Regions from separate parts of the Homo sapiens genome. Here region 1 is linked to region 2. A link means that fine-mapping ties the variant in region 2 to the expression of a gene that starts in the linked region. Tissue or cell type: whole blood. Region 2 holds a variant in brackets; the other region holds the start of a gene. All regions are shown on one strand. Distances are between the middles of the regions.

Region 1 (6,517 bases), 230 kb before region 2:
GGGTTCACGCATTCTCCTGCCTCAGCCTCCCGAGTAGCTGGGACTACAGGTGCCCGCCACCACGCCCGGCTAATTTTTTTGTATTTTTAGTAGAGACAGGGTTTCACCATGTTAGCCAGGAAGGTCTTGATCTCCTGACCTCGTGATCTGCCCGCCTCAGCCTCCCAAAGTGCTGGGATTACAGGCTTGAGCCACTGCGCCTGTCCAATTTTTTGTATTTTTAGTAGAGATGGGGTTTCACCATGTTGACCAGGCTGGTCTCAAACTCCTGACCTCAGGTGATCCACCCACCTCGGTCTCCCAAAGTGCTGGGATTACAGGTGTGAGCTACCATGCACGGACTGCTAGCTTTTATTATATTTGAGTCTGGAACTCATGGGAGAGGTCATAAATTGACATATAAATCTTGAGCTGGACACAGTGGCTTACACCTGTAATCCCAGCACTTTGGGAGGCCAAGGTTGGAGGGTTGCTTGAGCCTAGGAGTTTGAGACCAACCGCCGGCAACACAGGGATACTCCATCTCTATAAAAAATTAAAAAAATTAGTCAGGCATGGTGGCACATGCCTGTAGTTGTAGCTACTTAGAAGGCTGAGGCAGGAAGATCACTTGAACTCAGGAGGTTGAGGCTACAGTGAACCATGATCATACCACTGCACTCCAGCCTAGGCAACAGAGCAAGACTCTATCTCAAAAAATAGTCAGTCTGGGTGTGGTGGCTCATGCCTGTAATTCCAGCACTTTGGGAAGCTTAGGTGGGTGGATCTTTTAAGGTTGGGAGTTCGAGACCTACCTGGCCAACATGGTGAAACTCCACCTCTTCTAAAATATATAAAAATTAGCCAGGCATGGTGGCAGGTACCTGTAATCCCAGCTACTCAGGAGGCTGAGGCAGGAGAGTTGCTTGAACCCAAGAGGCGGAGGTTGCAGTGAGCCAAGATTGCACCATTGCACTCCAGCCTAGGCGACAGAGTGAGAGTCTGTCTCAAAAAATAAAATAGAATAAAATAAAATAAAAAGAATAAATGAAAAAATAAATACCGCGGGTGCGGTGGCTCACACCTATAATCCCAGCACTTTGGGAGGCTGAGGCAGGCGAATCACGAGGTCAGGAGCTCAAGACCAGCCTAGCCAACATGATGAAACCCCCATCTCCACTAAAAATACAAAAAATTAGTTGGGCATGGTGATGGGCACCTGTGATCCCAGCTACTCGGGAGGCTGAGGCAGGAGAATCACTTGAACCTGGGAGGCGGAGGTTGCAGTGAGCCGAGATGGAACCACTGCCCTCCAGCCCGGGGCGATAGAGTGAGACTCCCTCTCTGCCGGGCGCAGTGGCTCAGGCCTGTAATCCCAGCACTTTGGGAGGCCAAGGCGGGCGGATCACAAGGTCATGAGATCGAGACCATCCTGGCTAACACGGTGAAACCCCGTCTCTAATAAAAATATAAAAAGTTAGCCGGGCGTGTTGGCGGGCGCCTGTAGTCCCAGCTACTCGGGAGGCTGAGGCAGGAGAATGGCGTGAACCCCGGAGGCGGAGCTTGCAGTGAGCCGAGATCTCTCCACTGCACTCCAGCCTGGGCACAGAGCGAGACTCCGTCTCAAAAAAAAAAAAAAAAAGAAAAAAGAAAGAGTGAGACTCTGTCTCAAAAGAAAAAAAATAAAAATAAAATCAATAAGTCAGTCTTGGAGCCAGCATATCTAGGCGGTGTTTGTGGCTAATGTTGTAGGTTAGCCCATATTCCCACCCCTTCTCCTTTGCTTTTCTCTGCTCTGAGGCTAAATGCTGCAGACTAGAATCCCCAGGCCCCCTTGCAGTTAGAAGTGGCATTGATACAGTTTTGGCTAATGAAATGTACACAGAAACCTGCTGGGTAATTTCTTTTCTTTTTTCCAACTATCCAGACTTATAGGAGATGGGGAGGTTTGTGCTGCAGGGATACTGACCTTTGGTGCTTTCCCTCTTCCCTACCTTGAATGTGGATGTCCTGGCTGGGAACCCAGCTGCCAGCTCATGACCAGGAGGTAACAAGCAGGAATAAAAGGCCACCAGAGTCACAGAGACGAAGCTGCGGCGTTACCGAGGTGCGAATCACTGTGATTCCTAGGTGCGAATCATCACCAGCAATCACTTCTCTCAGGACTCCTTGTTAAGAAAAATAAACTCCTATTTATTGAGACCATGAGAGTTACGTTGAGAGGTATATTGTTATTGAAGCTGACAATATTCAATGCCATGAGTTTGAAGATCATCCCTGGGTCATTAACATATAAGCAGGGAAGAAAATGTGGCCCGAAACAGTCTGGGACATGAGAAAGCAGTAGGAGAGGAAGCCCCAAGGAAAGGGGGAAGCTGCCGCGCGGTGGGCAGAGCCAGGAGCACCGGGCTGAGGCGGCCGGGAGCGCAGCGGCTTCTAGGGGTGAGTGGGACCCACGCGGCCCCACCTGCTCCTCCCGCGCGCGGCCCCACCCCCCTGCCCCGCCCCGCCTGGTTTATAGGTCCCGGCCCGAGCCTCCGGCCGCCCGCCGGGTTTGTCCCGCGATCCCCGACCATGCCCGCCGACCTCAGCGGTACTTGGACCCTGCTCAGCAGCGACAACTTCGAGGGCTACATGCTGGCCCTAGGTAAGGCGGAGGGGAGGCGGCGGCGGCGCGAGGCTCGCCGTGGGTCTCGGGATCAGGCGAAGGCGGCCGGGCCGGGCCTGTAGGTACGTCCTCTGTCCGTGCCTCCGCCCTGCTGCGCCCACCGTCGCCCAGTCGCCCCCGAGTCCGCTGGTCCTTGGCGCCTCCGTCCATCGGGCGCGGGACCCCAGTCCTTCAGTCCCCCAGTCCGTCCTTTCCCGCGCCCACCCGCCCCCCTGTCCCCACGGCCGTCTCTCCACGCCCTCTGTTCCCCCGGCCGTCGGTCCCCCACCCGTCCGTCCCTGAGTGCCCGCGTCCAGCCCCACGTCCGTCTCTACCCGCACGCGGCACACCTGCGGAGACTGCAGACTCGGGGTCCGGCCGGGGAGGGGGGTCCGGCCGGGGAGGGGGCGCCCGGGACCGAAGCCTCTGCCCGGCCACCCTCCCCGCAGCCGCCTTCCGTGCAGGCCCCGGGGCCCCGGGCGCGCTCCCGCAGCGAAGTCCCAGCAGCCTCGGCGCACCCGGAGCGGGTCGGGGATGCAGAATCCTGGAGCCAGCGGACGACCCTTCAGGTCCGGGCACCCGCGGGAGTGCAGAGCCTGGTTCGGCCCGGGGCGTGCCCCGACCGCCGCCTCCCACGAGGGCTGGGTGCCCGCGGCGTTCTTGCTCCCGGGGGCCCCGCGCTGTGCTTCCCGCCCTCATCGCGGTGCCAACGGTGCGCGGACTCTCAACTCACTGCAACCTCCGCCTCCTCGGTTCAAGCGATTCTCCTGCCACAGCCTTCCAAGTAGCTGGGATTACACGCGTGCGCCAGCCACCACGTCCGGCTAATTTTGTACTTTTAGTAGAGAAGGGGTTTCACTATATTGGTCAGGCTGGTGTCCAACTCCTGACCTCAGGTGATCCACCCGCCTTGGCCTCCCAAAGTGCTGGGATTACAGGTGTGAGCCACGCGCCCTGCCACGAGTGTAGTTTTTCTTGTAGCTTTAGGAATCTGGGAAGTTGCCGTGCCGGCCAATCCCTGAACCCTTGACCCGTGGGCAATTTTTGTTTTCTTTTTTTCTTTCTTTCTTTCTTTCTTTTTTTTTTTTTTTTTTGAGACGGAGTCTCGCTCTGTTGCCCAGGCTGGAGTGCAGTAGTACGATCTCGGCTCACTGCAAGCTCCGCCTACCGGGTTCACGCCATTTTCCTGCCTCAGCCTCTCCGAGTAGCTGGGACTATAGGCGCCCGCCACCACGCCCAGCTAATTTTTGTATTTTTTAGTAGAAACGGGGTTTCACCATGTTGGCCAGGCTGGTCTCGAACATCTGCCCTCGTGATCTGCCCACCTTGGCCTCCCAAAGTGCTGGGATTACAGGCGTGAGGCACCGCACCGGCCAATTTTTGTTTTCTTAACCTTAGGGCCCATCTTAGTTGATAAAGGGGCATTTATTTTGCTCTTTCATATCCCAAGAGATAAGAGTGTTCCTCTGGGTATGGGAAAAGCACCTCTCACTTGAGAGTCTTATGATCTTCTTCAGAGGAAGAGCAGAGAATTCTTTTATGGCCTGCTTCAGGGAAGAGGGGCAAAAGAAGGTCTGAGGGGGACCTTCCTGCTACTGTTATTTCCTCAAATGCCAAGTGATATGGTTTGGCTGTGTCCCCACCCAAATCTCATGGGAGTTGTAGTTCCCATAATTCTCATGTGTTGTGGGAGGGACCTGAGGAGAGGTAATTGAATCATGGGGTAGTTTTCCCCACACTGTTCTGGTGGTAGTGAATGTCTCATGAGATTTGATGGTTTTACAAGGGGTTTCCCCTTTCATTTGGCTCTCATTCTCTCTTGCCTGCCACCATGTAAGACGTGCCTTTTGCCTTCTGCCATGATTTTGAGGCTTCCCCAGCCACGTGGAACTGCGGCAGTTAAACCTCTTTTTCTTTATAAGTTACCCACTCTTGCCAGGCTCGGTGGCTCACGCCTGTAATCCCAGCACTTTGGGAGGCTGAGGCGGGTGGATCAACTGAGGTCAGGAGTTCAAGACCAGCCTGGCCAACATGGTGAAACCCCGTCTCAACTAAAAATACCAAAAAGAAATTAGCTGGGCATGGTGGCGGGCGCCTGTAATCCCAGCTACTTTGGGAGGCTGAGGCAGGAGAATCACTTGAACCTAGGAGGCAGAGGTTGCAGTGAGCTGAGATGGTGCCATTGCACTCCAGCCTGGGCAACAAGAGTGAAACTCTGTCTAAAATAATAATAATAATAAGTTACCCACTCTTGGATATGTCTTTATCAGCAGCGTGAAAATGGACATAAGGTGCCATGTTCTGAGGTCGCCTATCCAGAAACCCTTAAATCCAGAACGGTTTTCTGAAAACCAGCAACTGTGTTTCAACTTCAGATCTAATTTGTTAAAGTACTAAGTACTTACATCAATTTGTTAAAGTGCTAAGTACTTAGGTCACACTTATAGCACTAGAGTGGTTGTTTACATAATACTGTAATACTCTTTTTTTTTTTTTTTTTTTTTTAGATGGAGTCTGGCTCTATTGCCTAGGCTGGAGTGCAGTGGCGCGATCTCGGTGTGAGCCACTGTGCCCAGCCATAATACTATAATACATTTTATCTTAAGAATTAAGTTGGTCTGGGTGCAGTGGCTCACACCTGTAATCCCAGCACTTTGGGATGCTGAGGCAGGTGGATCATGAGGTCAGGAGTTCAAGACCAGCCTGGCCAACATGGTGAAGCCCCACCTCTACTAAAAATACAAAAAATTAGCTGGGCATGATGGCATGCACCTGTAATCCCGCTACTTGTGAGGCTGAAGCAGGAGAATTGCTTGAACCCAGAAGGTGGAGGTTGCAGTGAGCCGAGATTGCGCCATTGCACTCTAGCCAGGGAGACAAAGCAAGACTCCATCTTGAAAAAAAATAATTAAGCTAGCAGACTGGGCAGGTGGCTCACGCCTATAATCCCAGCACTTTGGGAGGCCGAGGTGGGTGGATCACCTGAAGTCAGGAGTTTGAGACCAGCCTGGCCAACATGGTGAAATACCCCATCTCTACTAAAAGTACAAAAATTAGCTAGGCATGGTGGCTCATGCCTGTAGTCCCAGCTAATTGGGAGGCTGAGGCACGAGAATCGCTTGAACCTGAGAGGTGGAGGTTGCAGTGAGCCCAGATCACGACACTGCACTCTAGCCTGGGCAACAGCATGAGACTTGGTCTCAAAAAAAATAAGTCAATAAGACAAAAAAAAAAATTCAGCTAGCAATCTTGAATTTTACTGATTTACTTGAATATATAATTAACTTTAAATTTATATGCTTGTTCATGTACATGTAAGGAAAATACATTCCATAAAAAATCACAGATATAGTACTTAGATCTTTAAACTGTAGGGTCTAGGAAAATAATAAATGATCGCCTCTTTTTTTGTTGTTGTTGTTGAGATGGAGTCTCTCTCTGTTGCCCAGGCTAGAGTGCAGTGGTGCGATCTCGGCTCACTGCAACCTCTGCCTCCTGAGTTCAAGCAATTCTCCTGCTTCAGCCTCCTGAGTAGCTGGTATTACAGGTGCCCACCACCTCTCCTGGCTAATTTTTGTATTTTTAATAGAGACGGAGTTTTACCATCTTGGCCAGGCTGGTCTTGAACTCCTGACCTCGTGATCCACCCGCCTTGGCCTCCCAAAGTGCTGGGATTACAGGCGTGAGCTACCGTGCCTGGCTGATTGCCTCTTTTTTAGTAGTAGAAGTGAGGTAAATGCCTGTTGGCAGTGATGCTAAGGGTCAAATAAGTCACCAGCAAATACACAGCACACATCTCATGATGTGCTCCAGCTGGCATCTCATTTGAGGGCAGAAAATCACTCCCTTTTGTCTAAAAACTAGTGTTCAGGAACTGATCCTGCAGCTCCC
Region 2 (8,083 bases):
TGGCTCACTGCAACCTCTGCCTCCCGGGTTTAAGCAATTATCCTGCCTCAGCTTCCCGAGTAGCTAGGACTACAGGCACGTGCCACCACACCAGCTAATTTTTGTATTTCTAGTAGAAACGGGATTTCACCACGTTGGCCAGGATGGTCTTGATGTCTTGACCTCATGATCCGCCCGCCTCGGCCTCCCAAAGTGCTGGGATTACAGGCGTGAGCCACTGTGCCCGGCCTGAAGTTTTTACCATGAGACAGTAAAATCAGAAAAAATATTTAGGTTTAGGTTGTTTTGAGAAAGTAATTAAATATAAACTTCTAAAAAGGATAGATGTTATTAGCACACAACAATGCCCGGCTAATTTTTGTGTTTTTTTGCAGAAATAGGGTTTCACATGTTGCCTAGGCTGGTCTTGAACTCCTGAGCTCAAGCCATCTGCCTGCCTTGGCCTCTGAAAGTGCCAGAATTACAGCAGGTGTGAGTCAGAGTGTACAGCCCTGACCGTGGTTTTTGTTTGTTTGTTTGAGATGGAGTCTCGCTCTGTTGCCCAGGCTGGAGTGCAGTAGTGCGATATCCCAGCTCACTGCAACCTCCGCCTCCCGGGTTTAAGCGGTTCTCCTGCCTCAGCCTCCCGAGTAGCTGGGTTTACAGGTGCGTGTCACCACGCCTGGCTAATTTTTTGTATTTTTAGTAGAGATGGGGTTTCACCATGTTAGCCAGGATGGTCTCGATTTCCTGACCTTGTGATCCGCCCGCCTCAGCCTCCCAAAGTGCTGGGATTACAAGCGTGAGCTGCCGTGCCCAGCCTGTTTTGTGTGTGTGTTTTTTTGAGATGTTGTTGGCTCTGTTGTCCAAACTGGAGTGCAGTGATGGAATCATGGCTAATTGCAGCCTCCAACTCCTGGGCTCAAGTGATCTACCCACCTCAGCCTCTCAAGTAGCTGGGATTACCGATGCATGCCACCACACCCAGCTAATTTAAACAAAAATGTTTTTTGGTAGAGAGTGTCTGAATATGTTGCCCAGGCTGGTCTTGAACTTCTGGCCTCAAGCAATTCTTTCACTTTAGCCTCCCAAAGTGTTGGGATTATAGGCGTGAGGAACCATGCCTGGCCCCAATTTATGTTTTTTATTTAATGCTGTTTAAATGTTAGTTTGTTGACATCCAGTTAAATAGGAATTCAACCAAAAAAAATAACTATTGTATTCAAGACCCATCCTGTGTTGTAGGGCAGCTGTCCCCATTCTTTTTAGCCCCAGGGACTGGTTTTGTGGAAGACGGTTTTTCCACAGACAGGGTTGGGGTGATGGTCTCAGGATGAAACTGTTCCACCTCAGATCATCAGGCATTAGATTCTCATAAGGAGTGTGCAACCTAGATCCCTTGCATGCACAGTTCACAGTAATGTTTGCACTTCTATGAAACTCTGATGCCATCGCTGATCTCACAGGAGGAGGAGCTCAGGCAATAATGCTCACTTGCCCACCGCTCACCTCCTGCTGTGTGGCCTGGTTTTTAACAGGCCACAGACCTGTACCACTCTGTGGCCTAGGGGTTGAGGACCCCTCTTGTAGAGGATTAGAAACTTGACTAAGGCTGGGTGTGGTGGGACATGCCTGTAGTCCCAGCTACTTGAGGCTGAGGCTGCAGTGAGCTGAGATGGTTCCACTGCACTCCAGTCTGGGTGGACAGAGTGAGGCCTTGTCTTAAACAAACAAACAAAAAATTAGCCGGGCATGGTGGTGCACCCCTGTAGCTCCAGCTGCTCGGGAAACTGAGACAAGAGAGTCACTTGAGCCTGGGAGGTTGAGGCTGCAGTGAGCCATGATTCCCTTGACAGAGCAAGACCTTGTCTGAAAAAAACAACAAAACAATAAAAAAAGTAATTTATTCTGCCTTGGGTAAGGTCAATGATTTGAAAAGTGTTAAATAGAGGAGCAATTGTATTTGGTTTTGGGGTGGAGAGAATCCATCAAGACTTTAGACAGGAGCAAGTGAGAAGGTCCTGGAAGAATAAATTGGAATTTAAAAAGAACAAGACAAAGGACACAGTGGGGAAAGGGAAAGTTGGAGCAAAAACACAGGGGCAGAAAAACTTGGGATGCATTCTGGAAGTCCTCTGGTGGGTGGTTGTAAAAGAATGTGGCTGGAAGGCAGTGTTCATGTGGGCTTGTAAAAATAGGTGGTTTATGTTGCAGAACACTTTGAATGCCATTGTGGGGAGTTCAGTCATTGCTTCGTAGACAGGAGGGGAACTTGGAGGATTTTGAAGTGGACAGTGATAGAAATAGATCTGTACTTCAGGAAGGTGAATCTTGGCAATATTATGTGGTACAGATAGGGCAGATGAAAAGGGATAATTCACCTAATTGGATAACTGTGGTAAAGATAATAAAAAATATTTTTAAAAAAGAAAATGGGGATATTGTGTAGTATGGATAGGGTAGGAGGAAGAGAGAGAAAGCTGGTTAAGAAGGCCTTGGGTGAGAAGTATTGAAAGCCTAAAAGGTAATGGTGGTGGTAGAAATGGAGAGATTTTATAGATATAAGCTGATTAGATGGATAGACAAAGCAAGCTTTTAGCCTGTGTGAGAACAGCAGAATGGTGAGAACATTAAAAAGAAATAGAAAGGAGGCCAAAGAGCTGGTATTGTTTTGGGGATAGAGGTTTCGGCTTTAGTTGTGTGAGATTGAATGAAATGCTGGAAGGATAGCTAGGTAGAGGAGTCGAGTAGTCTATAGAAAAATGTATGTGTGTATGTATGGGGACATTAGGTATTAGAGATGTTAATGTTTTGGTTCATAGTTACAAATACATAGTACTTTATATCTAAAGCCCACCAAGGAGGTTTCAGCCTTTCTTGTCTTGTTTGTAACATTCAACACTTTGGTAGGTCCTAGGTAGAACACAAAAGAAAAAAGTTTTGTTTTGTTTTTTAAAATTTAAATATCAACAGTATTCAACAACTATCAACATTTTGGCAATCTTGTTCTGTCATCCCCTAACAAATTCCTTAATATCATCTAATACCCAGCCTATCTTCAGACTACCTGATTATCTAAAAAATGTATTTTTAGGCCGAGTGTGGTGGTTCACACCTGTAATCCCAGCACTCGAAGGCTGAGGCTGGAAGATTACATGAGTCCAGGAGTTCGAGACCAGCCTGGGCAACATAGCGAAACCCCGTCCCTACTAAAAATACAAAAAGCTAGCCAGGCGTGGTGGCGTGTGCCTGTAATCCCAGCTACTTGGGAAGCTGAGGTGGGAGAATCACCTGAGCCCAGGAGGTCAAGGCTGCAGTGAGCTGAGATCATGCCACTGCACTCCCCAGCCTGGGCAACCAGAGGGAGACCCTGTCTCAAAAACAAACAAACAAACAAAAAAATACATTGTATTTGGTTGATAAATAACGCAAGTCTCTCTTTTTTTTTTTTTTTTTTTTTTGAGATGAAGTCTCGCTCTCTTACCAGGCTGGAGTGCAGTGGTGCGATCTCAGCTCACTGCAACCTCTGCCTCCCGGGTTCAAACAATTCTTCTGCCTCAGCCTCCCAAGTAGCTGGGATTACAGGTGCACGTCACCATGCCCAGCTAATTTTTGTGCTTTAGTAGAGATGGGGTTTCACCATGTTGACCAGGATGGTCTTGATTTCTTGACCTCGTGATCTACCCATCTCAGCCTCCCAAAGTGCCAGGATGACAGGCGTGAGCCACCGTGCCTGGCCCACAAGCCCAGGGTTATAAAACCCTGTCTCCCCAATTATGCTATTTGTTTGAAGAAACTTGGTTGATTTATTCTGTAGATTGTTTCATATACTGAATTTGCCTGTTTATATCTTTGATGTGTCATCTAAGTTGCTTCTTTCCTCCCTATATGTCTTCTAAACTGGTAGTCAGATCTAAAGCTTGATTTTATTCAGGGTTTGGTTTTTTAAACAGTTTTCATTTTAAGGGGAGTGGGGCAAGAATACTTAATAAGCTGTGTATTTCCTTTGTTCGAGACCAGCCTGGCCAACATGTTGAAACCCCATCTCTACTAAAACCACAAAAATTAACCTGGTGGTGTGTTGGGCACCTGTAATCCCAGCTACTCGGTAGGCTGAGGTAGGAGAATCGCTTGAACCCATGAGGTTGAGGCTGCAGTGAGCCAAGAT[C/A]GTGCCACTGCACTTCAGCCTGGGTGACAAGAGCGAAACTTCATCTCAAAAAAAAAAGAGTTGGGAAAAGGTAACATTCTATAATTCTTTCATTTCTTCTGCATTTATTAGCTAGAATTTTTCTGTAAAGAACTTACCCTCAGCCGGGTGCTGTGGCTCACACCTGTAATCCTAGCACTTTGGGAGACTGAGGTGGGCGGATCATATGAGGTCAGGAGTTTGAGACCAGCCTGGCCTACATGGTGAAACCCTGTCTCTACTAATAATACAAAAATTACCCGGGCGTGCTGGTGGGCTTCTGTAATCCCAGCTACTCGGGAGGCTGAGGCAGGAGAATTGCTTGAATCCCGAAAAAGGAGGTTGCAGTGAGCCAAGATCATGCCACTGCACTCCAGCCTGACCTGGGTGACAGAGTGAGACTCCATCTCAAAAAAAAAGAAAAGAGAAAAAAAAGAACTTACTTTCATTGACTATTTGGTTATCCTGGAATATTTTATACAGGCTATACAGACTAGATGTATGCTTAATTCTGTTTTATTTGCTGTTTTCAGGATAATGCATTTTCTTCCCTCTGTAACCATTGATCTATTAATGAAGTTTTTAAAAAAAAAAGTATCGTAAGCTTATGAATTTATATATTTGACTTTTAAAAATCAATTTGCAGTATTTTTTACATGTTAGGAACAAGAGAACGTTCTTGCTATTGGAAGTGACGTTGAAAGTCATGCTTTAGAGGGGTTGATCTTGCAACAGGGTTAAGCAGTGGTTTAAAGCAGTGCTTTTTAGCTGGGTATTTGTAACATAATCTTTGAAAATTAACCCAAATCAACAAATCCATATCTGGGGCCTATCTAGACTGGGAGAGTCTAGACTCCTTTGTTTTTCAAAAGGCCCCCGTGTCATTCTGTTTCATACAACTCTGTTTAAGGACTATTGGATCAAAGACTAAAAGCCCAAAGAACAGTCCAGCTATTGCAAGTATCCTAGGTATGTGGTAGTAAGGACATGGATTGAGGTAATATCAGTGGGAATGAGAGGAAGGGAGGGATAGAATAAAGCAACTTTATATCTTAGAAGTTTCCATATGGTATTTTGTGAATAATGTTGGTAATAATACAAGGTTTCAAAGAGTAGTGACAAAGATGACTCCAACATTTATGGTATCGGGGCCTGGGAGAATACTGTTGATAGGGAAGATTGGCAGAGATTGCTAGTTTAGGGGAGAAGATAATGGTTTTTTGGACATGAGGAGAGTTAAGATGATGGCTGTATTTCAGAGGGAACTCGGGGAGGTTGCAATGTGTTTTATGTCTTGCTTTTTCTGAATGTGTCATTCATTCTCTTGGCATAGTACTCAACTAGTGAATATAAGTCATGCTCCATTGATTGGGAAGGTTAATAAATGCTAAGTTTTCATTTGATACATGTGATCATAAAAATATTTGATATTTAAATAAAGAACCATCAGTTTAAAATAAAATGGCAAACAGACTAGAAAAAACATTGTAGCAAATAGAAAAAGATTAATATAAAAATATGTAAACATTTAAAAAACAAAAAAATCAGTAAACTAGGCAAAGGACTTAAACAGATAATTCTCACAACTGGGAAATGTATGTCATTCATTTCATCAACATTTACTGAGCTCTTATGTCAGGTACTGTTGTAAGTGCTAGCAAACGAGACAGGAGATCTCTGAGCATTCTGGTGGTAGAGTGAGAGACAGACAGTGTGAGAGATGGACAATAGACATGCTCCAGAAAACAAGAATTTCAAATAGCGATGATGCTATTAAGAAAATTAGGGGCCAGACAGCCGGGTGCGGTGGCTCATGCCTGTAATCCCAGCACTTTGGGAGGCTGAGGCGGGTGGATCACGAGGTCAGGAGATCGAGACCATCCTGGCTAACATGGTGAAACCCCATCTCTACTAAAAAAAAAATACAAAAAATTAGCCAGGCGTGGTGGCAGGCGCCTGTAGCCCCAGCTACTCAGGAGGCTGAGGCAGGAGAATGGCGTGAACCTGGGAGGCGGAGTTTGCAGTGAGCCGAGATCGCGCCACTGCACTCCATCCAGCCTCCTGGGTGATGGAGTGAGACTCCGTCTCAAAAAAAAAAAAAAAAAAAAAAAAAAAAGAAAAGAAAATTAGGGGCCAGACGTGGTGGCTCACACCTATAATCCCAGCACTTTGGGAGGCTGAGTCAGGAGTTTGAGAACAGACTGGGCAACATAACAAGACTTTGTCTCTACAAATAAAATAAAATATTAGTTGGGTGTGTTGGTGTGTGCCTGTAGTCGCAGCTGTTTTGGAGGCTGAGGTGGGAGGATCACTTGAGCCCAGGAGTTCAAGGTTACAGTGAGCTATGATTGTGCCACTGTACAGTAGCCTGGACGGGTAGGGCATTGAGGTAGAGAGTGACTTTGGTTTTTATGTTATTTATTTATCCTGTTCTCGGGAACACATCGGTTATGGTGTTGTGTAGTTGGAGGTTAGCATTCCTAATTATCTGGAAAAAATATTGGTCAGATTTAAGTTCTGTTGTGGTTCCTGATAATTGGATTCGTAATTACTTTTCTTTTTTAGATTTTTCCTTTGTTTGGTTATTCTTGAAAAAGATTTTATATTGGATAGAGTGTAGAGTTTTTCCTAACTAGAAAAATTGGTTGTTTTTTTTTTCTTTCTTTTTTTTTTTGAGACGGAGTCTCACTCTGTGACCCAGGCTGGAGTGCAGTGGTGCGATCTCAGCTCACTGCAACCTCCACCTCCTGGGTTCAAGTGATTCTCCTGCCTCAGCCTCCTGAATAGCTGGGATTACAGGTGTGTGCCACCACACCTGGTTAATTTTTGTATTTTTAATAGAGACGGGGTTTCACCGTGTTGGCTAGGCTGGTCTTGATCTCCTGACCTCAAGTGATCCACCCATCTCGGCCTCCCAAAGTGCTGGGATTACAGGCGTGAGCCACCGCACGCGGCCGGTTGTTTCTTACAGAAGTTACTTACTTGGATTCTTTTCACACAGTAGTGTTGGCTTTGTTCTGTTGGGAGGGAAACTATTCCTCTAAAAAATGTTCACATTTTTCCTATTACTTCATTCAGTAGTGAAATGTAATGATTTGACTCTGCCATGAGTCAGTGGCATATCTGAGGGATCTTTGAAGTTAAAGGAAATTGGCCAGGCGCAGTGACTCACGCTTATAATCCCAGCACTTTGGGAGACCGAGGCAGGTGAATCTGAGGTGAGGAGTTCGAGACCAGCCTGGTTGACATGGTGAAACCCCGTCTCTACTAAAAATACAAAAATTAGCTGGGCGTGGTGGCGTACGCCAGTAATCCCAGGTACTCAGGAGGCTGAGGCAGGAGAATTGTTGAATCCGGGAGGCAGAGGTTGCAGTGAGCCGAGGTCGTGCCATTGCACTCCAGCCTGGGCGACAAGAGCAAAACTCCGTCTTAAAAAAACACAAAACAAAAGAAAACCCAGAAGTTAAAGGAAATCACTGTATAGTTAAACGAATTGACTAGAAAGTGTCTTTGTCCTTTGCTATTTAATTACACAATATATATACATCATGTAACCAAATGTTTCAAACTATAATTAATGTATGGAGAGTTCAGTGCCCTTTTTTTTTTTTTTTTTTTTTTTGTGAGATGGTGTCTTGCTTTGTTGCCCAGGCTGGAGGGCAGTGGTGGGATCTCAGGTTCATTGCAGCCTCCACCTCCTGGGTTCAAGCAATTCTCCTGCCTCAGCCTCCCTAGTAGCGGGGATCACAGGCGCATACCACCATGCCTGGCTAATTTTTGTATTTTTAGTAAAGATGGGGTTTTACCATGTTGGCCAGGCTGGTCTCGAACTCCTGACCTCAAGTGATCCGCCCAACTTGACTTCCCAAAGTGCTGGGATTACAGGCATGAGCCACCATGCCTGGCCCAATGCACTTC

The links. PIP is the estimated chance that this variant, and not a neighbour inherited with it, causes the effect.
Region 1: it holds the start of RBP7, and the variant in region 2 is fine-mapped to the expression of RBP7 in whole blood (TOPMed, PIP above 0.99).

Annotation. Positions count from the first base shown.
Region 1 is chr1:9,994,706-10,001,222 of GRCh38, forward strand. RBP7 (retinol binding protein 7) reads left to right here and starts at 2,523. Exons shown (of 4, transcript NM_052960.3): 1 at 2,523-2,626. The coding sequence starts at 2,554. It overlaps LOC124903840 (basic salivary proline-rich protein 2-like), which reads right to left and starts at 3,384. Exons shown (of 2, transcript XM_047436754.1): 1 at 2,977-3,384; 2 at 2,014-2,147. The coding sequence starts at 3,325. The coding sequence ends at 2,014. It also overlaps a transcript of NMNAT1 not described here. RefSeq lists a silencer at 4,272-4,472.
Region 2 is chr1:10,223,615-10,231,697 of GRCh38, forward strand. The region is part of intron 1 of KIF1B (kinesin family member 1B); the gene reads left to right. Among named protein-coding and RNA genes, the nearest start is that of KIF1B, 17 kb to the left of the region's middle. The variant C/A (reference allele first, on the strand shown) is at 4,148.